2 separate regions of the Homo sapiens genome follow, and region 1 is linked to region 2. Evidence: fine-mapped QTL for protein levels in blood plasma. A gene starts in region 2. The other region holds a variant in brackets. All regions are shown on one strand. Distances are from middle to middle. Region 1 overlaps IGFBPL1 (insulin like growth factor binding protein like 1). Region 2 holds the start of IGFBPL1 (insulin like growth factor binding protein like 1).

Evidence for each region. PIP is the posterior inclusion probability: the model's chance that the variant is causal. Protein levels are from antibody-based Olink assays in UK Biobank. Linkage for the fine-mapping came from a reference panel and not from the study's own genotypes, which makes the PIPs less certain.
Region 1: its variant is fine-mapped to the plasma level of the IGFBPL1 protein (UK Biobank, PIP above 0.99).

Annotation. Positions count from the first base shown.
Region 1 is chr9:38,399,732-38,411,706 of GRCh38, reverse strand. IGFBPL1 (insulin like growth factor binding protein like 1) reads left to right here. Exons shown (of 5, transcript NM_001007563.3): 4 at 158-316; 5 at 2,490-5,179. The coding sequence ends at 307. Among named protein-coding and RNA genes, the nearest start is that of ALDH1B1, 13 kb to the right of the region's middle. The variant C/T (reference allele first, on the strand shown) is at 5,870.
Region 2 is chr9:38,417,848-38,429,822 of GRCh38, reverse strand. IGFBPL1 (insulin like growth factor binding protein like 1) reads left to right here and starts at 5,369. Exons shown (of 5, transcript NM_001007563.3): 1 at 5,369-5,858. The coding sequence starts at 5,399. LOC105376041 (a long non-coding RNA gene) reads right to left here and starts at 5,212. Exons shown (of 8, transcript XR_007061487.1): 1 at 5,073-5,212; 2 at 3,060-3,173. RefSeq lists an enhancer at 45-4,324.

The DNA of each region.
Region 1 (11,975 bases), 18 kb after region 2:
GCGTGCTCCTTGGCAGCCAATGCAAGGAGAGAAATAGAGCAAGTTTTACCTTATTCTGAAAAGGAGGAAGTGTGCAGACTTATCATTAAGAACTAACTAAGGAAGTCATTTTGCTGTTCCTTATATAACTGTATAAACTTGCCTGTTGTATTTCTAGATCAACCCCCTGCGAAAGGAGGATGAGGGTGTGTACCAGTGCCATGCAGCCAACATGGTGGGAGAGGCTGAGTCCCACAGCACAGTGACGGTTCTAGATCTGAGTAAATACAGGAGCTTCCACTTCCCAGCTCCCGATGACCGCATGTGATGGAGAAATGTACATGTTCTAAGTCATTTTCAGTATTTTACACCCATGTTATGAGATATTTGAGGTGGCTTATAAGACCTGTAAAAAAAAGAAGAAAAATACGTAAATGGAGGAAACCAGGGAAAGAGCAAAAGAAGAGTAGGGACATACTTAGATGAGCAGTAGAATCCCTGGTATATTCTGCACACATCTCCCTCTGAGCTTCTTAGCATGCAAAGACAAGAGCTGTGAACATGATGTGTGTCCATGAGATGAAAAGACCAGTTGTGTTTTGGGGCTGGAGGGAATATTTCCTCTGTATTCTTCTAGAAAGAGCACTGAGAGAGGTAGCAGACAGTGTCATTGTGACAGCGTCCATGTGAAAATGTTCCCACAAAGAAGATGCCTGAGCTTCCTTTGTGTGTTCCTGGAGCTCTTCCTTGTTCAGGACACCTGAGCTTCCTTCCTGGGGCTCAGGCCTTGCCTTCCTGTCCTCAGCACTGTGTGCTGCTTTGCAACACATCTCCTTGTGGGTAGGGGCAGAGAGAATCTCTGCATCCCCTCTGGTCAAGGCCTCCTAGTCTGTAGTCACACAGGTGACAGCTGGGGTTGCATCTGTTCCTTGCCTACAGGTGAACTGGGAATTCGGGAAAGGGATCACTTTATAAGCCAGCTTTTGCTCATAAAAATCCCAAAATCTTGCTGGTTCACAGCCACAGACGTTGATCACTTGCTCATGTTCCATGTTATAGCTGTGAGCTGGCTGTGGCCCTGCCCCATGTGTCCCCTCATTCAGGACCCAGCTGGAGGAACAGCTCCAGTGTGGAACATGTCCGTTCTGTGGCCAGGCTGCACACACCATTGCATTTAAAGTTTCTGCTCGGATGTGATGTGTGCCCCGCCCATTTACAGACCAATCATTTTTTTTTTTTTTTTTTGAGACAGAGTCTCACTCTGTCACCCAGGCTGGAGTGCAGTGGTGCGATCTCGGCTCACTGCAAGCTCTGCCTCCTGGGTTCACGCCACTCTCCTGCCTCAGCCTCCCGAGTAGCTGGGACTACAGGCACCCGCCACCACACCTGGCTAATTTTTTTGTATTTTTAGTAGAGACGGGGTTTCACCGTGTTAGCCAGGATGGTCTTGATCTCCCGACTTCATGATCCGCCCGCCTTGGCATCCCAAAGTACTGGGATTACAGGCGTGAGCCACCGTGCCTGGCCTGCACGATCCTCTTACAGGAATGGGGGAGCAGTGGTGAACAGGCACCATTACCAAGGCTGATCAACAGGTGCTTAATAGAACAGGAAAAATTAGAAACAAGTCTGATAGGGTTTCTCAAAAGCAGGGGGATTTTGCCATGGTTTTAGTTATATTATTCTTTCAGCCACTACTGTTGCACACCTTCTGTGTGCAAGGCCTTACTTCTGGTCTGTAGGGGATCACAGAAAAACAAAAAGTGGACATAATTATAATACAAGGAGTGCGATGTAAGGGAATGGGAGGAGATATTAAGGCATGAAAAGCAGCTTAGAACTGGGGAAAATGAAGGAAGAATCATCGAGGAGGTGGCATGAGGATTGAAGGATGGGTGTACGTGAGTAGTTAGAGGCCCTAGAAATGGGGAGAAAAATATGAAAATGTAAAACTGTGAAATAGGAATTCAACAAAGAGTTAGGAGATTGGGTCTTAAAATTGTCTTCCTGATGATATGTGACTTGTTTTATATAGATATGTTTCCAGTTTTAAATATATATATCTATAATTTTCAAATACACGTATATTTTGAGGCAGAAATGATTCTGGGTTGTGAATACATCAAAAGGATACCATGAAAAATTGTGGAATTTTAAGAGCATCACTGCTGCCTAGGTCTTGAGTTCCTTCTGTGACACACAGTATTGCCAGCTCTGGCTTACATACCTCCAGGGATACAGAGCTCACTACCACTGAGAGCCATCTGTGGATTTTCCAATGGTTGAAAAGATCTTATTAAGCTGGAGTCTGCTGCTTTGAAACGTCCACCTTTTGGTCTTAAAAGTACTTCTTGGGACTCCACAGGGCCCTTCACTCTCCACTGGCACCATTTCCTGCTGGGGAGAGATTCGAAGTGAAGGATCATTTCCCCCACCTTCCATGTAACACATAGTTGATTGTAACGGAGCAGGCTTACGTTCTCTAATTCTTTCTCTCCTTTTCTTCCTAGGGTCTTAGAAACATTGATCATGGGATGATGGAAAAGTCAAATAACGGATCTTTGTGCTTCATGAAGAGTTGGAAAACCTGTGTGTGTAGATGACCCCTTTTGTGTGTTTTTAAAAATTAGATGCAAACTAGATCTGTATGCAGATGTAGTTTTTAGCAGGGCAAACAGTGAGAAACGGATTTGCATGTGGCTTTTTTATACTTTTGAAATGAATTGTTCCATGAGAAGTCTTTTTGTAATTATTCTCTTCCAGGGAGATCACAGAACGGCATGTTTGCAATTTCGAAAGGGCTCGTGTCAGCTGTGACTCTTTACCTCATTTGTCTATGACCTATTAGTGGTGCTCTGTGACTTAGTGTGTGTTGTAGAAGGAGGGATGAGGGTCCCAGCTGTCCTCTGCCTGACTGTAACTTGCTGTGTGACCTGAACAGATCCCTTCCCCTCTCTGGGCCCTGGTCCCTTCATCTGTGAGTATGGCATTTTAACTGGATGTTATCAATGTCCCTTTTAGCCCTGCCATCCTAGATTAAGATGGCCTTTTGGGAAAATAACAGGAAGTGTGGTCTTAGTGTTCTTTCTAAAATGGTATTCCCTCAGAAACAAATTCCATTGCTTTACCCCAACGTGTGGACAGCTGGCTGTAGCTCTTCTATTCCTAACTTTTTCCCTTTGAAGGAGATTTAGTTTTAGGTGGGATGCTTTACCAGACTCAGGAGCGCCTTGGCTGGGTCTTTGGAGACCAGAGCATCCATTTGTTAGCCTAGCATTCTCTTTTTTAAAATTTTATTTTGAGACAGGGTCTCGCTCTATCACCCAGGCTGGAGTGCAGTGGCGTGATCATGGCTCACTGCAACCTCCACTTTCTGGGCTCGAGTGATCGTTCCACCTCAGCCTCCTGAGTAGCTGGGACCACAGGCATGCCCCACCACACCCAGCTATTTTTTTTTTTTTTTTTTTTTTTTTTGTAGAGACAGGGTCTCCCTATGTTGCCGCCCAGGCTGGTCTCAAATTCCTATGCTCAAATGATCCTCCTGCCTTGGCCTCCCAAAGTGCTGGGATTATAGGCATCAGCCACTGTGCTTGGCCTAGCCTAGCATTCTCTAAACAGGTGGTTAGAAGCGGTGGATACCAGGCTTCTGACGATCAAATTGTAAAAAAAGGGGTCAGGTGTTATCTCCAGACTGTGGAATTAGATTGTAGTAGAATATATTTTACCTACAAACATTTTGACCTCACCCAAGAGTAAGGCTCTCTTTTTTTTCTTTTTTAATGAAAAAAGAAAGGAGAATATTTGCTATCTTATCTTAAAAAAATAGATCCTTAGGTGATTACAATTTTAAAATAAGAATTGAGAGCCCTTACTATGCACAGTCCTTTAAGTTCATAAAGCTTGATCCCAACTCTGGGAGATGGGGCAGGACAGGTGTTAATGTCCCTGCCTTTAGCAGATGAAGAAACCAGGCTCTGAGAGGAGAAGCTACTTGCCCAAGGCCTGAAGGCCTCTGAAAGAGGAGCAGAGCTCAGGGCACCTGGCCCTCCTTGGTCCCCTCTCTACTCCACGGTGCTGCTACTCAGGGTCATCTCAAAACTATGTAAAGGCAGATGTTGCCAATCCACAGGCTTCAGGGACTCTTATCAAGACTCATCCCAACTTTTAAGGCACACTTTCACACCGCTCACATTGTGCATTACATTTTGGAGTCCTTGTTGGAAGTGAACTTTCCGCCTGTAAGCCTGCCATTCCATGTCTAATATATTGGGATGGCATCACCTTCTGTACTATGCAGCAGAAGGAGACTGGCCTGGGATTCTGGAAACATGAGATCCATTTGCATATTAATCCCCGGCTCGCTGTGTGACCCTGAGCAAGTCTCCTTCACTTTCTGTGCCTCAGTGTCCTTATTTGAGTAAAAAGGGAATAAAACTAGATGAGTGGTTTTCAAACTTTAAAACACTGGAAGCTCTCTTTGAAAACAAAAGATGAGAATTGAAATGGATGGCACTGGAAGCTGTTCTTGTCTACTGGGGTTTGGAGCTGCCAGGGGACCTGCTCACATCCACTCCTCACTCAGCCCCTCCCGCCCCTCCCTTCTCCACGCACTGTGACTGACTTCCATGTGTGAAGGCCTGCAGTTAATTCTCCTGTGTCTTGAATGGTTGGGAGATGAGTTGGTCAGACCCTTAGTGAAATGATGTGGGAAGGAACAGGAATGCTGTGGCTCTGAAGAAGGTAGTAGAACATCCCACACCTGCTAATAAGCACATTTTGCAAACTCAGTTGACTCACCTCAGATTTGCCTAGTGAAAACTGAAGGGCTGGATGTAGACCCAGAGAGCAGGGTGGACAGAGCCCATGCTGGAAGTACTGAGCATCAGGACTGTATGGGGCTGGCTTTAGCATCATCATTCTGTGCAAAGACAAATAATTAATGTCACACTGTCTGAAATTTTCACCAAAACCAAAAAGGCGCATTAACATGATTGTTCCAACCTCATGGTTTTTCAAGTGTGAGCGCCCAGAGACCTCTTCAGAGGCTAAGAGAGCATGCGCTGCCACAGCTGTTAGCATTTGGAGACGTAATTACAATGCCCCCACTCCCCGCACCAAACCTGGGTTTTTCTACCGTTTTTGTAGATGTCATGATGTCACGACCCCTGCACCCTGAAAAAAATAAATGTTTTTAAGGACAGTCTTTGTGGTGTCTTTGTTGTAGGAATGCTGTATAGGTGGGTGCAGGTCCCACTGGTATTCCTTTATCATCCCTCATGCCTCCTGTCCTTCCTTCTGCATGCCCACTTCAGCTACTTAGTCTAGATCCTCCTTACCTCCCACGCCTGGTTGCGATCGCAGCCCCACCGTTCACCTTGCCCGAAATTTTTAACCAGCCCTAATCATCTTACACTACTGCCCTTGACTATGTGTGTCCTGCCGTGTACGCATTCTAGTACTTAATTCACTTGCTGAGATAGTGCTCTGTCCCCTCCCACACACACAGTAGCATTCTCCAGGTGCCAGACAGGTACAAGATGCCGAAAGTCATATGTTTGGAATCATCTGGATTCCTCCCATATGAAAGTAGGTAGAATCAGGTCCTGAACTCAGACTCCAGTGGAGACATGGGTGGGATGAGGTCACCATCCCTGGCAGCATATGGTGTCTGCTTTGTGGTTAGAGCAGAGGGAGATCAAGGAAGACTTCCCAGAAGAGGAGGCAGGCATTTGAACTGGCAGGAGTGGGTGTGGGGGATTCCAGGCTAAGGAAACAGCATGCAAAAAGGAGTCGGGGTAGAAAAATGCAGTGTAGTTTGTGAACAGGGAGGAATGGCCAGTTGCTGCTGCTCAGAGCTATGGTGGTGGGCGGGTAGTAGTTTGGGGCAACA[C/T]CCCTCAATGCAGACAGAGGAGGTTGAACTTGTTGCCGTAAGCAGTGGACAGACTGAATCTCTGTCTCTGTTGTCAGCTGGGCTTGAGGAAGACAATTCCACAGCCCATGTTCAATCCCAAATGTATCTGCTTTCCCCCTTAAACACAAATAAGGCTAGTTTTTAGTTAAGGTGGATTTTTTTTTCTTTCAGGTTTTATGGTGAAATTAATTCCAACATCTTTAAAAACACTGTCCTGCCCTCTCCTCCAGGGACGGATGGTGCAGGAGAAATGAATAAGAACGGCAGATCCAGCGACAGTAAAAGTCTCCGCTAATGAATTTCCTCCTTCCCAGCCTTTACGAGGGCTTCTTGAACATTACATCAGACAATGATTATTCCATGATATTTTAATTAATTAAGGGAAAGCCAGGTGCTCTGGTGTCTCAGTTTAATGAATTCAGAACGTGGAAGCCCAGTGCCCAGGGCTGAGATGGACACCAACACTTGCCCACGCTCTGGCTCTCTGGGGCTGACCGCTCTCCTGGAACGTGAACTCGTTTACGGCCAGGGCTCCTTTTCAGTTCAGCCTCGATTGCATCCAGCAGTGAGAAGTGCGTGGGTCCAAGGAGGCAGACTTCCCTGTGTTGACTTTCACTGTGGCTGTCTCTTCCTCATGCCTACATCTCCCCTCCTATATTAGGGAACGGTTGATTCTCGAGGGAAGAGTAAAAATCCTGAGTACTAGGGAGTGGGGGAACAGTCTCCCCTCTTTTCTCCATGCATAAACCCACCCATCACACATTTGCAGAGCTCCTCCAGTGCACCAGGCATCGCCAGGTAGCAAAGGGTCTACAATTGCCCACAGACCTCGGAGTCTCAGCTCCGGCACAGAAGGCTGCTTGTGGTGCCAAGTGGCATGCCCCGTCTCTCTGCTGTTGAAGGTGTATGCAGCTCTTGCTTGGGTGGAAAGGGCACTAGCTTTAGAGTTGGAAGACCCAGAACTAAGGTCAAGCCTTGTCAGAGATTGCAAGGCTGGGTCACTTTCATCAACTCTTAGAGTTTCCATTTCCTCTTCAATCCAGGAAGGGTGGCATCCCTGCCCTGGCCTGTTGCTCTGAGAGCCCCATGTGTGAATGGCCATGCACTGTCTGTTCTGCACAGATCTTGGAGGGCTGTGTGCCGGTGGGAGAGGGCTGGGAGATAAATCAAACATGCTCAGAGTATGTGAGACATAGTCTAGCAGGACAAAAACATTAGACCCGTTTCAACCAACGAGAGCTGCCTCAGTACAAGACTAAATGAAGGGTGCCCAGAGACCTCTTCAGAGGCTAAGAGAGCATGTGCTGCCACAGCTGTTAGCGCAAAAGGTTAGCTCAAAGGGTGAGATTGCTTAAATGAGAAGTTCAGAGGAACTGTCCTGGAGGGGGTGGCCCTTAAGTAGGGCTCCAAGAAAAAGGAACAGTGTGAGCACGGCTGGATGGGAGGCAGCAAATGACCCACGAGAGCATTAAACTCAAAAAACATCCTTGTGAGAAGCAGTCTCCTGTTGGCATATCTCCACGGACGTGCCATGGGCGGCAGAGCTGGGGCGAACTGCCAGCAAAACCGAGGGTCTTCCACAGTGTTGAACTGTCCTGTCACAGACTATACTTCCCGTCTCCTCTTGCACCTAGGCTGGGTCATGTAGCTAGTGAAATGTGAGTAGAGGCGATGTGTTCCATGCAGAGCCCAGGGCTCTCAAAAAGTCACTGTGCCTTTTCTGCACTTTCTTCCCCATTTACCAGCTGACACGGAGATCTCTGAGGCCCCAGACAGGGGTTTTCACTTGGATCCCTGGACCCCTTGGGATTCTATAGGTAGATTCACAGATTCTGTGAACTCCTTGAAAGTGTGCAAACTGTGTGCATGTGCGTGTACATCCTTTTCATGGTGAAAAGGTCTATTGCTTTGATTAGCTTTTCAAAGGAACGCAAAACATAAAAATGGTTAAGAACAGGCCAGGTGCGGTGGCTCATGCCTGTAATCCCAGCACTTTGGGAGGCCGAGGCCGGCAGATCACCTGAGGTCAGGAGTTCGAGACCAGCCTGGCCAACATGGTGAAACTGTGTCTCTACTAAAAATACAAAAATTAGTCGGGCATGGTGGTAGGCACCTGTAATCCCAGCTACTCGGGAGACTGAGGCAGGGGGAATTGCTTGAACCCAGGAAGCAGAGGTTGCAGTGAACCGAGATCGCGCCACTGTACTCCAGCCTGGGCAACAGAGCAAAGGCTCCGTCTCAAAAAAAAAAAAAAAAAAAAGGTTAAGAACCGTTGTACATGGTGGAACCACAAGACGAAAGGAACCGGTGTCCCTGAATCTCCATGTGGAAGGAAAATACCAATTTGCCAGGTACCTGCATTAGACTGTTACATAAGCAAAACTAAATAGTCGTCGTATTGAACCCTCAAATTTGGGGGGTTATTTGTTGTGGCGGCTAACATTATGCCAGTACACATGGGAAGAACGCTTGGCTGGGAGCAACTTGTCCAAGTTGCTCTGTCCACATTTCTGGCTAAGTGAGGTGGGATGCACCAGAGGCTCTCAAAGGGCCTCATACCAGGACTTCTTGCTTTCCCTTGAGGGTCTTCCTAACTCCAGGACTAATGTACAGATCATTGGCGCTTGGGAGGATTAAGTGACACTCTCAACCCAGGTTTTCTGGCTTCTGTGCCCAACTCCACCACCTGCTCTTACCAAGGTCTACAGGGAGTCCTGGTGGCTGCAGCCAGGGACATTGCTCAGTGCTCCTCCTACTTGACCTCTTGGGAGCCTCAGGCTTTGCTGGGGGCTCCCTCCCCCGGAAAGTACCCCGCCTTCCTTGGCTTCTTGCCTCATCTCTCCTGGGTCTTCCTCCTGCTCCTCCTCATTCTCTGTTCACTCCTTGTTGGCATTCTTAAGGTCAAATGATTTTGCTCCCCTTACAAACTGTTCTCAACATAGCGGCCCCAGTGATCCTTTTAAAACAAGTCATATCATGTTGCCGCTGTGCCCAAAAGCCTCTGGTGGCTCCTTCCTCAGAGTAAAGGCCCCCGTCAGTCCATCCACACGGTGACCTCCAAACACCAGCCCTCTGCCCCCCTCAGGCTGTGACTTCTCTGTCCTATTTCCCCACCTGGCTTGCTCCATGCCAGCCACCTGGCCTTCTCCTGTGTTCCTGGAGCCTCCAGGCATGCTCCAGTCTCTTGGTGAGACGACCTCTGAGCACCTTACTGAAAATTACAATGTCTACTCCATCCCACCCACTTCCCTATTCCCTTCCCAGCACTGTTGTTCTCTATAATACCCTTCACCTCCTGACAGACTAACGATTTCACCTGTTTTGCATATGGTCTGCCTCTTCTATCAGAAAGGATGTTCAGGATTTTATTTTTTTTTTAGTTTCCTGCTGTATCCTCTGCCCCTAGAATAGTTCCTAGCACATAGACAACATTCCATAAAATGTGTTAAACAAAGGAATACATAAGTAAGAGTCCCACCGTGTCCCTAAACGTGCAACCTCCAGGGTGGTTGCAGTGGCTGGCACTACCCCCCACGTGGTTACTGCAGCCAGAAACATGAGGTTACCCAACTTTCTCTCCTCTCTTGTGCCAAGTTGTCCATCTGTCATCATGCCCTGAAGCCTGCCTTCTGGCTGTCCAGACTCTGCCCCCACCCCACACCCTGGTGTGCCAGCATCACTTTGGGCGCAAGCAACAATGTCCTGAGAGGTGCTGACTCCAGGTCAACTCCCTCAATCTATCCTCCACATTGAAGCAGAGCCAGCTTCAGAAACCGAATGTGATCCTATCACTTTCCTTTAAAAGCCCTCGGGGGCAGCCAGACATGGTGGCTCACACCTGTAATCTCAGCACTTTGGGTGGCTGAGGCAGGAGGATTGCTTGAGGCCAGGAGTTCAAGACCAGCCTGGGCTACACAGCGAGATGTCCCCCATCTCTACAAAATGTTAAAAAAGTTAACCCAGCATGATGGCACACACCTGTAGTCCCAGTTACTTGGGAGGCTCAGGTGGGAGGATCGCTTGAGCCCAGGAGTTTGAAGCTGTAGTGAGCTATGATCAAGCAACTGTGCTCCAGCCTGTGTGGCAGAGGGAGACCCTGTTTAAAAAACAAAAGCAAAACCAAAAAGCACCCTCCCATTGCTAGACCAAGTGTGAGCTTTCTGAAAGGATGCACGAGCCCCTTCACAGTCCAGCCCCTGCCTGCCCCCTGCCCCCATGCTTTTCCTCCCTGCCTCTTTCCTCCTCATGGAAAAACTTGCCCTTCCTCCAACCCTCCATATTTCTCAGACTCCAGGAGCATCCTTCCCTTATCCCTCTGGTCCCCTGCTAGTCATTTAGCAGGACCCCATGCCCACTCCCACTGGGCCTGTGCCTGAACTGAGCTGGGAGCCCTGGGAGGCAGCGGTGTCTGGCAGAATCAGAGGACCTGAGCTTGAGCCTGTCTCCACTCACTGCTGAACACCTCCCAGGCTTGATGTCTATCAAGTGCAGAAGAATAATACTGAGGGCCCTGATGGCAGTTAGAAAGTGAAACCCTGTCTCTACTAAAACTACAAAAATTAGCCGGACGTGGTGGTGTCTGCTTGTAATCCCAGCTACTCAGGAGGCACCCAGGAGGCAGAGGTTGCAGTGAGCCAAGATTGCGCCACTGCACTCCAGCCTGGTAGACAGAGCGAGACTCCATCACGAAATTAAAAAAAAGAAAGAAGCATGAAGGGAGGTGGCCCACCGTGTGTGCTTGATACAGAGGCTTGCTTTCCGCTCATGATCTCACGGCCTCTGTGCTTCTCACTGCACTGTCCACCCGGCTCTGTAATTGTCTCCCCTGCCCAACTGTGAGCTCCTGCAGGGAAGGGACTGTCTTACTCAATTCTCTTTCCCCCAACAATAGGCCTAGAGCAGGACCATCGCCCCCCACCCAACCCCTTTGTTTTTTCTTAAACCAAAGAGTTACTTGTGTGAATTAATGAATCAGGTGGCCACCAGAGGTCAGCCTCACACCCAGAATGGAGCCAACCCAAATGAAAGTTCCTAAATGGCCCCGGGTCTGAGGAGAACCGGTGGGACTGAGCAGCAGCTCTGATGCATCCAGCACAGTGGCTGGCTTGGGTGTGTAGGGCTTGCTGGGCTTTGCCGTGGGTTCTCCAGGCTTGGAGGGTTGGTTCCATGTGCTTGCCAGTATGCGCCGCTCTCTGGTCCCTCGTGCATGCTCATGGGGAACTGATTCCAGAAGAGTTCCCTATTAAACCTCTCCACTTCCTTTCCCTCACCTGAAAAAAGTGGGGTGGTAACTCCATTACTCCACTACCTGCTTTATAGGATGGTTGTGAGGCTTCCATAGCATGGCAAGGTGCCTGGCATAGTGTTTATGGAGTAAGATCTTGGTGAGAGTTTGCTAAGTGGATGGAAGCCCCAGAATTGCAACATCTCCCAAGTGTGAGTCTGGTGGGCAGTGTCTGGCCTGAATGAGGACACCCAGTTAAACCTCCCTGCTCACAAGTCTGTGCATTCAGCACAGTGGTAAAATGAGTGGAGGGGACTGGGCTTGCTGGCTCACGCCTGTAATCCCAGCACTTTGGGAGGCCAAGGTGGGCAGATCATTTGAACTCAGGACTTCAAGACCAGCCTGGGCTATGAGGCAAAACCCTGTCTCTCCAAAAAATACACAAATCAGCCAGGCATCATGACATATGCCTGTAGTCCCAGCTACTCAGGAGGCTGAGGTGTGAGGATTGCTTGAGCCCAAGAGGTGGAGGCTGCAGTGCGCCATGATCGTGCCACTGCACCCACCCTGGACAACAGAATGAGACCCTATCTCAATGAATGAATGAATGAATGAATAAATAAATAAATAAATAAATTTTTAAAAGAATTTAAAAATGGGTGGAGGAGCCGTGATGGCTGAGTTTATTAACAATCTGACCTACAGGCTCCTCACTCTCAGAATTTCAGGGCTCAAAACAAGGGACCATGAAGATTGTCTTTTCCAATCCCATTCCATACTGGAACACTGTCTACAGAGCTCGTCTTTGGTTAAGGAGTATTGAAACTTAAATAAGGAATGGAGTTGTTAAAATATTGTGAT
Region 2 (11,975 bases):
TAAATAAATAATTTGTATGATTATTGAAGCATATTTATAGTTAAGCTTTCTAGTTCTCTGATTGTGACCCATCTTTGACAGTTGTTTCCTGGGACCACTCCTGGTTCTATTAGCTAGATCACTCAGGCCTACCTAGTCAGATGACAAATAGAATTCATTTCTCTTTTTTTCTTTTTCAGGCATGCAACAGCTCTGTTCCCCAGGCTGGAGTGCAGTGGCTTGATCACAGCTCACTGCAGTCTTGAACTTCAAGGCTCAAGTGATCCCCCTACCTCAGCCTCCTGGGTAGCTGGAGGCATGTACCACCATGCCCAGCAAACTTTACATGTTTTTGCTAGTAGAAAAGAGGTCTCACTATGTTGCCCAGGCTGTTGAAGTCCTGACACAATCCTCCCCACAAACCTTGGGAGGTACAGGGATTACAGGCATGAGCCACTGTGCCAAGCCTACAAATGGAATGTAATATAAAGAATTATTGGGCCAGGCATGGTGGCTCACGCCTCTAATCCCAGCACTTTGGGAGGCCGAGGCACGTGGATCACCTGAGGTCAGGAGTTCGAGACCAGCCTGACCAACATGGCGAAACCCTGTCTCTACTAAAAATACAAAAATTAGCTGGGCGTGACAGCATGCACCTGTAGTCCCAGCTACTCGAGAGGCTGAGGCAGGAGAATCGCTTGAACTCAGGAGGTGGAGGTCGCAGTGAGCCAAGATAATGCCACTGCACTCCATCCTGGGTGACAGAGTGAGACTCCGTCTCAAAAAATAATAATTAAAAAAAAAAAAAGAATTATTGGCTGGGCACAGTGGCTCATGCCTGTAATCTGAGCACTTTGGGAGGCTGAGGTGGGCGGATCACTTGAGTTCAGGAGTTCAAGACTGGGATCGACAACATGGCAAAACCCTGTCTCTACAAAAAAAATACAAAAATTTAGCCAGGCATAGTGGCAAATGCCTGTAGTCCCAGCTACTCAGGAGGCTGAGGCAGGAGGATGGTTTGAGCACAAGAGGCAGAAGTTGCAGTAAACCAATATCGTGCTACTGCATTCCAGCCTGGGCGACAGAGCCAGACCCTGTCTCAAAAAAAAGAAGAAGAAGAGGAATTATTAACTAGGCAACTTGGAGGTAGCAACTGTGAAGCAGCTACCACCATGAGGGCTAGGAGAACAATGGAAATGGCTGGAATGACTAAAACTTAGATGCGTATAAGAGGGGTCCTTGGAGCTCAAACTGAGACCTCTGCAGGGTGTGCCACTAGGCTGATGCTAGTGTCACTGAGCTTGGAGAAAGAACCCCAGGGGGGCTGGGGCAGTTCATTCTGGGTGGGCCTGAACTCTAAAATCTTATCAGCACTGTGTGAGCCCCAAATCTCTGCTCAGCTCTCACCTCCCAGCAGCCTCCCTCAAGTCTTGCCCTGTACTTGTGCAGTACAGGGTCAGCCAAAGGTCTAAGACTTGTGGGATTCCCTCTCTGTGGTTCCTCATTTTCTGTCCTAGATCCCCAAATCTCTGCCTTACTCCTGAATTCTGATGTCTACCTCTTCTGTCCAGTGAGACCACTTGGCCTCCACCTCCCTGCAGAGTGGCCTGGAAAGTGTCCCCAGGGAGAATGCTTGGGTAGATGTGGGGCTCACATTGTGTACCCCCTGACGCTCTCAAGGATCACAGCCCTGTATTAGAACACTGTCCAGTGCCTGTCCATAGCTGTTTTCTTTAATTTGTCCAAGTTATATAGTGGTTTACAGCAGAACAGCAAATCCTCTACCATTCTTTTTCGTCTGCTCAGTATCTGAATTCCCATCTTTGCAGAGTTCTACATCTTGCTACATCCCCTTGCATGCAATATTGAAGTGAAATCTGTCTCCCTAAAAATCCCATCTGTCATTTATGGAACTTCCCTCTAGAAATTCACCTTGCCTTCTGCTCTGTAATCGCCCACCAGAGGTCTGGAGAAAGGGCTTTCACCTTCCTTTAGCTTGGAGAAGACTATCTATGATTGCCCTGACTATTAAAGCTTGAGGTTCAAATCCATGGCCTATTTATGGAGTGGCCTTTGCTCAACTGAGCTTCTATTCTCTTCCTCTGTGCTGGAAGCTCCCCAAGGACAGAGAATATCTGCCATTTATCTCTACGTTCAAGGGAGGAATTAATGGATGGGACATTCATACCCACTTCAGCAGCTGCCGGGTGGGCACACATCTGCTCTGAATGGGGGATTGGCTAGTCTTCCCTGTGTTGTGTTTGTTTTCAGGCTGGAGGCTGAAGAGGAAGAAAATCACACCCATTCTTGTTGCCTAATTACTTACCCAGGTGCATGGGATCTCTCCACCTGCCAGACAACAGAGGCACCTCAACCCCCCTTCCCGACTGGGAGAATTTGTCCCTACTTTCTCCTATCATCTTAGGGGGCCCACAGGTGTGGCCCACAGTGTTAACTGGTACTCTGGGAACCAGAGAGATGAAAGAGCACAAATGCCTCTGCTGGGCTATGGGCTTGCAGGCAATTTTAAAAGGAAATAGACATGACTGATCACCTTCAAAGCTTGGGAATGTTTTCTCCACCCAGATACAGGGGCTTTGATGCCACAGGCTCAGTGTTGGAAAATGAGTCTTCTGATTTAATTCTCAAAGAGTCGTTATGCATACATAGTACTCTCCCTACCATTTAAAAGGAATGTAGATCATATGTAAATGCGCCTCTGTGAGATTGTGTATCCTAACCTGCATTAAGCACACATTAATTTCATTATGACACCGTTCACTTACTCCTCCTTTAATGTCTGCATAAAAAGCAGGCAAATCATTTCTGTACACATTTATTTCTCAATCATGACCATGTTTTGTCCAGTCCAGGTCTCAGGGTCGGGCACTGTACTACAGGAATGGTGGCTCAGTTTGAGGTAATCAAACGTCAACTCCCCTGACCCCTACTTCTGACCCCCTCCATGCTCCTTGCCAAGACTCATTCTTAAACTCCTTCTTTGACAAGGACCTCACTATCTCTGGAGCAGCCTGATCTCTCTTTGGACAACTATGAACCATTAGAAAGTCTGAACTTACCAGCAAAGTTGTCCCTGAAAAGCAGCATGGAGTTCGCTTATCTCTTTTGTTTGCAAATCCTGCTTTGTTCATTTAACATTATAAGTGTTTCCTTCTCATAGTGAGACCCCATCTCTGAAAAAAAAAAATTGTTTAAATTAGCCAGGCGTGGTGGTGCTCACCTATAGTCCTAGATACTCAGGAGGCTGAGTGGGGGAGGACGGCTTGAGGCTCAGGAGTTTGAGGCTGCAGTGAGCTATGATCATGACATTGCACTCCAACCTGGGCAGCAGAATGAGGTACCATCTCTTTTTTTTTTTTTTTTTAAAAAAAGGGTTTCCTTCACATCATTAAAAACAATCTTAAATTTTTGCATGTTTACACATTCACATATTTACAAATATGCCATTACATTAGATGTGCACTTTTTAACCGCTATTTTACTAAACAATGTATTATAAACATGTTTTCATTTCTATTAACCCATATTTTCTTTCTAATTGTTAATGCCTGCATAATCCTCTATTGTTAGATGTACCATAATTTATTTAACGATTGCCTCTCGGTGGGCATTTAGGTCGTTAACTTTTTTTATTTTTATTTTATTTATTTATTTATTTTTTGCTATAGTAACCAACTCCAGGATGAAATCTTCACACATAGTGATCATTTTTTTAGGAGAGATTCCTGGAAGAGCACAGAGGGGTCAAGCGGTGAGAGCACTTTAAAAGGCCACTCCTGGTAAAGACAGCAGCCTCCAGGTTGAAAGTCACTGTTGATAGGTTCTGAGAGCTGCGCTGAGTGCATTACCAACATTGTTATATTTATTCCTTACCACCACCCCTTCATGGTGCCTAACCGCCCCTGCTCTGTGTGGCTGATTGTAAGGTAAGGCCTGGCGTGGACCAGGCAGATGGCCCTCCTCTGACCACCACATAAAGTGGCCTCAGAAGAGGCTCCTTTCTGGGGATAAGAAGACTGCAAACTGGGAAGGAACTGGGCTTGAAAAGCAAAATGAACCCCACCCAAGAACGGTGTAGCTGGTCTTCCCAGGCTGCAAGAGGCTTTCTCCATCTCCAGGAGTTCAGCAAAGAAAAAACAATAGAGCACAAGACACATGAGGGGTGGCCAGTAAAGGCAGGAAAAGTCTCCTATAAAACCTGCTCAGCGAGTCCCTCCCTCCATCCAGTGCATTTACCCAGCAACACATCAAATCCCAGCAGCCAAGACTCTCTTAGGTTTCTCGTCTGGGTGCCCTGCCAGAACTCAGGCAGGATGGTGTGCACAGAGCCTGGCCCAGAGAAGGCGCAACGGCGGCATGAATAACTGACTACAAGAAACTGCATCTTTCCAACATGCATTCCCCAGTAAGCCACAGGTACACTGACCCTTGTGCACCAAGACTTCATCAAAGCATTATTCGTATTAACCAAAGGATGGAAAATAAGTGGTTAAATAACTGCAACTAAACCCTGTGGAAAGGCCACTCTGTATGAACTCCAAAATATATCACCATATCTCATCACAACAAAGTCACTGTGGACGGAGATGTACCATGACTTTATGCAGCATTAAGAAACACACTCACAGAGCCAATGAACTATGCTCCCATTGATTGTATAAGAAACCCAGTTTCACAGATGACAAGAGGTGGGGAAACTGTGAAACACTGTAAGTGCAAAAACCAAGTGCAGACTAATGTGTATGGCACGCTACTCTGTGTGTGTGAGAGAGAAACAGAGTGTGTGTGTTTTAAAGGAAGGGGCTTTTTTAGGCACATGTACTTTTATAGGCATAGAGAAAATTTCTGAAAAGATATACAAAAACCCGATAGCAAGAGTGGCCTCTGGAAGCCGAGTTGGAGGATGGGGATACAAGGTGGTAGGGTAACCCTCTTTTCATCCTTAGATGTATATGTAAAATCTACATTTTAAACCATATATTCTCTTTATAAAATAAAACTTTGAAAACTACTGAATGCAAAATAAAATTAAATAAAATAGCGCATCCTTCTGGGAGGATTTACGGGCATACTATCTGGAGCCAGCCTTGGATCCGGAGACCGTACGGTTATCCAATCCTGACTCTGCCATAGCGACCTCGGGCAAGTTGTCGCCCCGACTGGGTCTCGGTTCCCTCAAGAGTCCAATCGGAGGTCGGAGAGCTGCTCTCGGGGCGACCCTCCAGCTCGGAGACCCGGGCCGCGGGCACCGCGCGGGTCCCGGGCTGGAGCAGCGGTCTGCGGGCGCCCCGCGGTGCAGGCCCGGCCAATCAGCGGCCGCGGGGCGGGAGCGGTGACTGCTCGGCGGGCGCGGAGCGGAGCGCGAAGCAGAGGCGCCGCCGCTGTCCCGGAGCAAGCCATGCCGCGCTTGTCTCTGCTCTTGCCGCTGCTGCTTCTGCTGCTGCTGCCGCTGCTGCCGCCGCTGTCCCCGAGCCTTGGGATCCGCGACGTGGGCGGCCGGCGCCCCAAGTGTGGTCCGTGCCGGCCAGAGGGCTGCCCGGCGCCTGCGCCCTGCCCGGCGCCCGGGATCTCGGCGCTCGACGAGTGCGGCTGCTGCGCCCGCTGCCTGGGAGCCGAGGGCGCGAGCTGCGGGGGCCGCGCCGGCGGGCGCTGTGGCCCCGGCCTGGTATGCGCGAGCCAGGCCGCTGGGGCAGCGCCCGAGGGCACCGGGCTCTGCGTGTGCGCGCAGCGCGGCACCGTCTGCGGCTCCGACGGTCGCTCGTACCCCAGCGTCTGCGCGCTGCGCCTGCGCGCTCGGCACACGCCCCGCGCGCACCCCGGTCACCTGCACAAGGCGCGCGACGGCCCTTGCGAGTTCGGTGAGTCAGGGTCGGGGATTGGGTGGGTAGAGAAGGAGGGATTCCAACCCTCTGGGGTGTGGAGCGAAGGATCCCCCTGCCCAGTGGTGGACGGCGCTGCCTGGCACTCAGTTTCCCCTTAGGGAGCAGTATTTCATATCTCTCCTCGTGCTCAGAGAGACTGGGGCGAGAATCCTTGGAGACGCCACTCACTGTGCTAGTCGAATTTTTGGTGAGCCTGCTACCCCTTTTGGTACTTAAGTACCTGCTGATGCAGTCACTTATTTGTAGGCATGGTATGTTTGCCCAGCAGGAGACTGGGAGTTAAGGAGGGGGATCCGAGTTCCCAGGTATCCAGCGCTAGGTGGATTGTTTGAATGGGGAGGAAGGGAAGTTGAGGTTGGGGGAGGAAGGGAAGTAGAGGATAGGGGAGGAAGGGAAGTTGAGGATGCAGGAGGAGGATGAGTTCCAGACTGGGGAATCAGTAGTCACCAGGCCACAGCACCAGAGCACCAGGGCCCCCGGTGTGGGAAGGGGCTGAGCTGGGATGCTGAGGGAGCTCCATCCAGGAGAAGTAAGACCTTTGGAGACGTAAGGTCTGAAAAGATTGTGGTGCTATTAGGGGCAGACTCAGGTTTCGTGCTTCTAAAACATATATAATTTGGAGAGTCCTGCCTTAAGTAAAGGAATAGAACTGCTAGGGACTTAGAAACTTATTATGAAATGCTAGGGACTTAGAAACTTAAGCTTCATTAACATCACAGTAAAATAATCTCTGAGTGCTATAGTTGCCCACCCTCTTTATGTACCTTTTGAAAACCAAACAAAAAGAAACCAAAACGTTAGCACTGCTTTACCGGCTTCCTAAGCATGAGTGTATTCCACCCACTAGGTTTTGAAGTGCCGCTGTGTACTTTGCCTGGAGTGGGCAGTGCTGAGTTTAGGGTGAGTGAGAAGGTGGCCAGTGAGTCCCAAGGAGCCTGGGTTTCGGCCTGGAGTTCAGGCTTCTGGGAAATAATTCTGGCCTGAGCCCAGAGACCAAGTCCAGACTTTAGTGCCTAAGTCAGTGTAATGACTTAGCTTCAAGAAAGAAGCCTGGGGTGGGGTGAGACCTTTCCAAGCCTTAAGAAGTATCTAGTAGTCTTTCCTCTCAAGTAGTTCAGGTAGATGTACCCAAGTCCAGGAGACGCAATGGGTTGTTGGAGATGGGGCAGGAAGCCTCCAGTCCTGGGAAATGTAAAACCAGTGTGTGGCCAGTTGAGCACAGGAAAGTCACCATTGGCTGTTCCTAGCTGAAGCTCCCCATGGAGGACAGAGCTGGCTGGGGGTGCATCTGTGCTGCCGCTGGCTCCCTGAGTGGCCCTGGACGGGTCCCTTCCCCTCTCTGGCCATATCAGCCCCAGTGGAGTCATTGTTGAGGTCCCTTTCACTCGGAACAGTTGGTTTCCGCCCTGTGGCACTTAAACAGTCCTGTCTCTTTCCTTTTGCTAGTTCCTATCACTCGTTTTTATAACTGCTTTCCTCAGCCGTTAATTCACAGGCAATTCTCTTTGTCTCCAGACAGGTAACACTTTTAACTCCACATGCAGGAGACAGAAGAAATGCTGACCAGGTCCTCAGACTATAAATGCTGCTGATGATCTCAGATAATTTCTCCCCAGAGTGGCATTCTCTTCCTAAGAGAAAGGCACCTTAAAGACATTCAGACCAAATCTGCTGTTATACAGAGAAAGAGACTGAGACACAGCAAGGTCAGAGCCCTTGTCCAGGGTGACCAGTAAAGGATGACCAGCTCCCTGGTCCCAACACCCTGTCCAGTGCTCTTTTGGCACAGGACTTAATAGTATTAAGTCAGGCAGATGGTGGTTACCATGGTTACCAGAGTGAGGCCAGATGGCAGATGGAAACTCCATACCCCTAATTCACTGAAAATTACCAAATGACAAGTAAATGTGACAGCCCCTTCACTCTGATCTATGGGATCTGAGGCCCACCCCAGGCACAGACCCAGGGAATAAAGATATTCGTGGGGCCACATGGAAGCAACTCAGAACTGGTTTTCATGATCTCATTACTGACAGGCGTCAGGCCTCCCCGGGGTTCAGCCCTTCTTCCGCACCAGCCTTTGTGTCATCCACCACAGAACCGGGCACTGTTTGCCTGTCACTCTCTGTCCTGAAGTGCTAGTGTGGCCTCTGCCCTTGTGTCCAGATAAAGCATGAAGGTTTGGACAGGGGATGTTTCCTAGCCCAGGCAGCAGCTCATTCTGTGCTGCCCTAAAGCCATCTTTTATTCACAAGACACAGCGGGAGCGTTTTTTAACAATGCCTCTGGGGATCCCGGTTGAAGGAAAACAGACTGTGAGTCAGAGCAGGGCTGTTCTGCTTCAATATTCATGATAAAATCACCCCTCCTGACTCCTTGGGTACCCAAGCACCTAGATTTCATGGAATGAGGCCTCGGGAAGTATTTATTATGTTGTTCACAGTGTGTGAAGGGCCCTTATACATGCCTCTGAGGAGCCTGGGGAAGCAGTTTTCAGGCTTAAATTCTGCCCTTTCCTCCTATGCCCTGAAATGCCCCAAACTGCCACATAATGAGAGTGATCCTTTGATCCGCACACATGTATGGAAGACTCACATATGAATAATTCTTACTGTTGGAAATTGCTTTTGCATCCTTTTTTTTTTTTTTTTTTTTTGAGACAGGGTCTCACTGTATCTCCCAGGTGGAATACAATGGCTTGATCACAGCCCACTGTGATCCTGGGCTCAAGGAATCCTCCTGCCTCAGCCTCCCAAGTAGCTGGGACTATAGGCACATACCATCATGCCCAGCTGATTTTTAGAATTTTTTGTAGAGACAGGATCTTACTGTGTTTCCCAGGCTGTTCTTGAACTCCTGGCCTCAAGCACTCCTCCCACCTCAGCCTCCCAAAGTGCTGAAATTACAGACATGAGATACCATCCCTGGGCTGCACCCATCTTTTTACATGATTTTTACAAGTGTCCTGGGGAGGTCTCCTTCCCATTTGATAGAAGGGAAAGCTGAGGCACATGGAAGGAAATTCCCTGGAGCCACCTGGCTGGTCCCAGCTGTGAAAGGGCTCCAGTGTAGGTTTGCCTGGCTGTTTTGTTTTGTTTTGTTTTGAGACAGAGTCTCACTCTGTCACCCAGGCTGGAGTGCAGTGGTGTGATCTTGGCTCACTGCAAGCTCCACCTCCTGGGTTCACGCCATTCTCCTGCCTCAGCCTCCAGAGTAGCTGGGACTACAGGCGCCCACCACCACGCCTGGCTAATTTTGTTTTTTGTACTTTTAGTAGAGACGGGGTTTCACTGTGTTAGTCAGGATGGTCTTGATCTCCTACCTCATGATCTGCCCGCCTCGGCCTCCCAAAGTGCTGGGATTACAGGCGTGCGCCACCATGCCTGGCCTGCCTCGCTATTTTCAGATGGGCGCTGCACAGCTAGCCGCTAGCAACCTGATCAGTAAGGTGCTGTGCACCCGCCAGCCTTGAATCTTGGGGGTTTCTCAATCTGGGTCCACCTTCCTGTTTTTCCCAAGGTTTGTCACTTGTCCCTCTATTTAGCACTGGGCTATAGCTCCTGAGAGAAGCCTTGAAGGATGGGGAGAGAATCCCAATGCTAGCAAGGGGGAGGCACAGCATGAACTGAGGCTCAGAGGTGGGAGCCCTTTGGTGGGTGTGCAAGTGGGCCCATAGGGCCGAGGCCTGGTAGGATGGTTGGGAAAGGAGATGACACCCCAGAGTAGTTTGGGGTAGGCCACTGCAAGCCTTGGGTGCAAGGCCGAAGGGGGAAGCTTCATTCTGCACTTTGGGAGGCTGAGGTGGAAGGATTGCTTGAGGCCAGGAGTTCAAGGATAGCCTGGGCAACGCAGCAAGATCCCATCTCTACAAAAAATTCTAAAAACTAGCTGGACATGATGGCATGTGCCTGTAGTCCCAGCTACTTGGGAGGCTGAGGCAGGAGGATTTCTTGAGCCCAGGAGTTCGAGGCTACAGTGAGCTATGATCATGCCACTGTACTCCGCCTAGGAGACAGAGTGAGACCCTGTCTAAAAAGAAGAAGAAGAAGGAGGAGGAGGAGGAGGAGGAGGAGGAGGGGGAGGAGGAGAAGGAAGAAGAAGGATGCAAAAGCAATTTCCAACAGTAAGAATTATTCATACGTGGGTCTTCGATACATTCTGAATTATTGGTTCAGCTTCTCACTGGTAAGGTGGTATGGCCTTAGTATTATGATGATTATTATTGCTCTCATTACTTTAAAGGCTGGATAGTTCAGTGTGTGCACCCTATTTGTTAGCATTGGGAGAGGGTTGGGGTCCTACGGACAGCAAGTTAATGTCATGTTTCAAATGATAAATTAGATAGGAACAGGGTCCCGGCCAGCACCCGCCAGGGCATTGAGCCCTGGCAGCTTCGGTGAGCTCCTGAGACCCTGAATCTTAGAAAATTCACCTTGGTTGAAATTCCAGCTCCACTTAGAAACCTAGGTCTGTGCTAGTGTGTGTTACCAGGTAACCAGGAGAGGCAGCGCATGCCACTTCGTGAGAGGGACAAAGAAGGGGGTTTGTGCTCAAAACCCTTTCATGCTGAGGGAGGAGATCTGAGGCAGAGGCTGCAGGGAGCAGGATTAAGCTGTTTCTTGTTCCACATCATAACGTGACTATTAGCATAAATTATCAGGGCTGTTCAGTGTGTTGATTATTAAAATCTTTGGTTATGTGCTTTTTAATACAAGCAGATGGGGTCCTGGGGAATGACTTGATATCCTTTCTTTCCCTAGCACCATTAACTTTAAAGAAATCTCAGAGGGATTTGGGAAGATTTTTTCATTCCAGCCATCAATGATCGATATAATTGACGAGGTAGGGGGACAAATCACCACACACTATAATAATAATATTGATCCCTTTCATTTGTACAGATCCACACAGTTAATAACACAGTCACATCCATTTTCTCCCTTCACCCCAAGGATGCGAGGCTGCGGTCATCATCTTCATTTGCAGATAAAAAGGAAATGATTAGCAACTTGCCCAAGCTCAAGTGGTTGGCAGCGAGACCCCTGGGCATTTGAGTCTCCCTCTGGTACTGTTTTTGCTCACCCCACAGTACTGCCTCCTGTGACCATGTGCATCTGGGTGACTGTCTTACCTGCTGGTTAGCCCTTGGATGGTTGGATTTGTGCAATTCTAGGGCTATTGCTGGCACAAGCAGAAGGAAACAAGTATCAGCAAGGAAGAGCTATAGGGGGATGAAGCTTCCACATTCACAGACTGGGCTAGCTAGAAGCCATCCTCCCTCCTGCAAGCCACATCATTCTTGTGAAAGGCAGGCAGAAAGGAAAGCCCTGGTTCCTCTGGCAGTGTGGCGGCTCTGGCAACAGTAAGAGTATGTGCTTGGCTCCCCAGAGTGAGGGCTGTAGTCATGGTCCCTGGTGCCTCTCACCCAAGGCCAGAGGAGGCTCTCATGCATGCAGGGAGCTTTAGAGGAGATGCCTAAGGACAGCACACCCTGCCTGAGTCCTCAAGTCCCTCTGCAGAGGTCTTTTACAGTTTGTAAGGGGTCTTGCAATTGTTCCTCACAACAGCCTTTGAGGAGTGGGCTGGGAAGGGAATAGATTCCTGTGCCCATTTTAAAGAAGAAGACACTGAGGCCAAGACTGGGACGTGGCAGAGAAAGGATTTGAACCTGGACTCTTCCACCCCTGCCTGCCACGCTGTCCTTCCTGCCTGTGGTGGCAGCCATGACGTTGAGCACTCCAGTGCCATGCTGGAATGAGCCCTTGGGGATAGTAGGGACTAGAAATGTCCTGCTGGTGTCAAGGACACATTGCTCATGTTATGGGTTATCTTCATAAGAGCTGTTCCCTGGGGGTGATGTTTGGGGTGTTTCATTGTTGTATAGAAAACAGCTAACACGGCAGGCCTGCGACCATATCCTCAGAAAGGCCTGCTGGCAAGGTTGGCCTTGGGCTGGTATCTGGGGACTTAGATTTCAGGGGGGTTCCACTCTTCTCAGAATTGATGAGAGTGGCTCACTGTGCCTGAACTGTACAAACAATGTGGTTTATGCTGAACCCCTGCTTTCCTTCTCGGAGTGTGGAATTTGGGTAT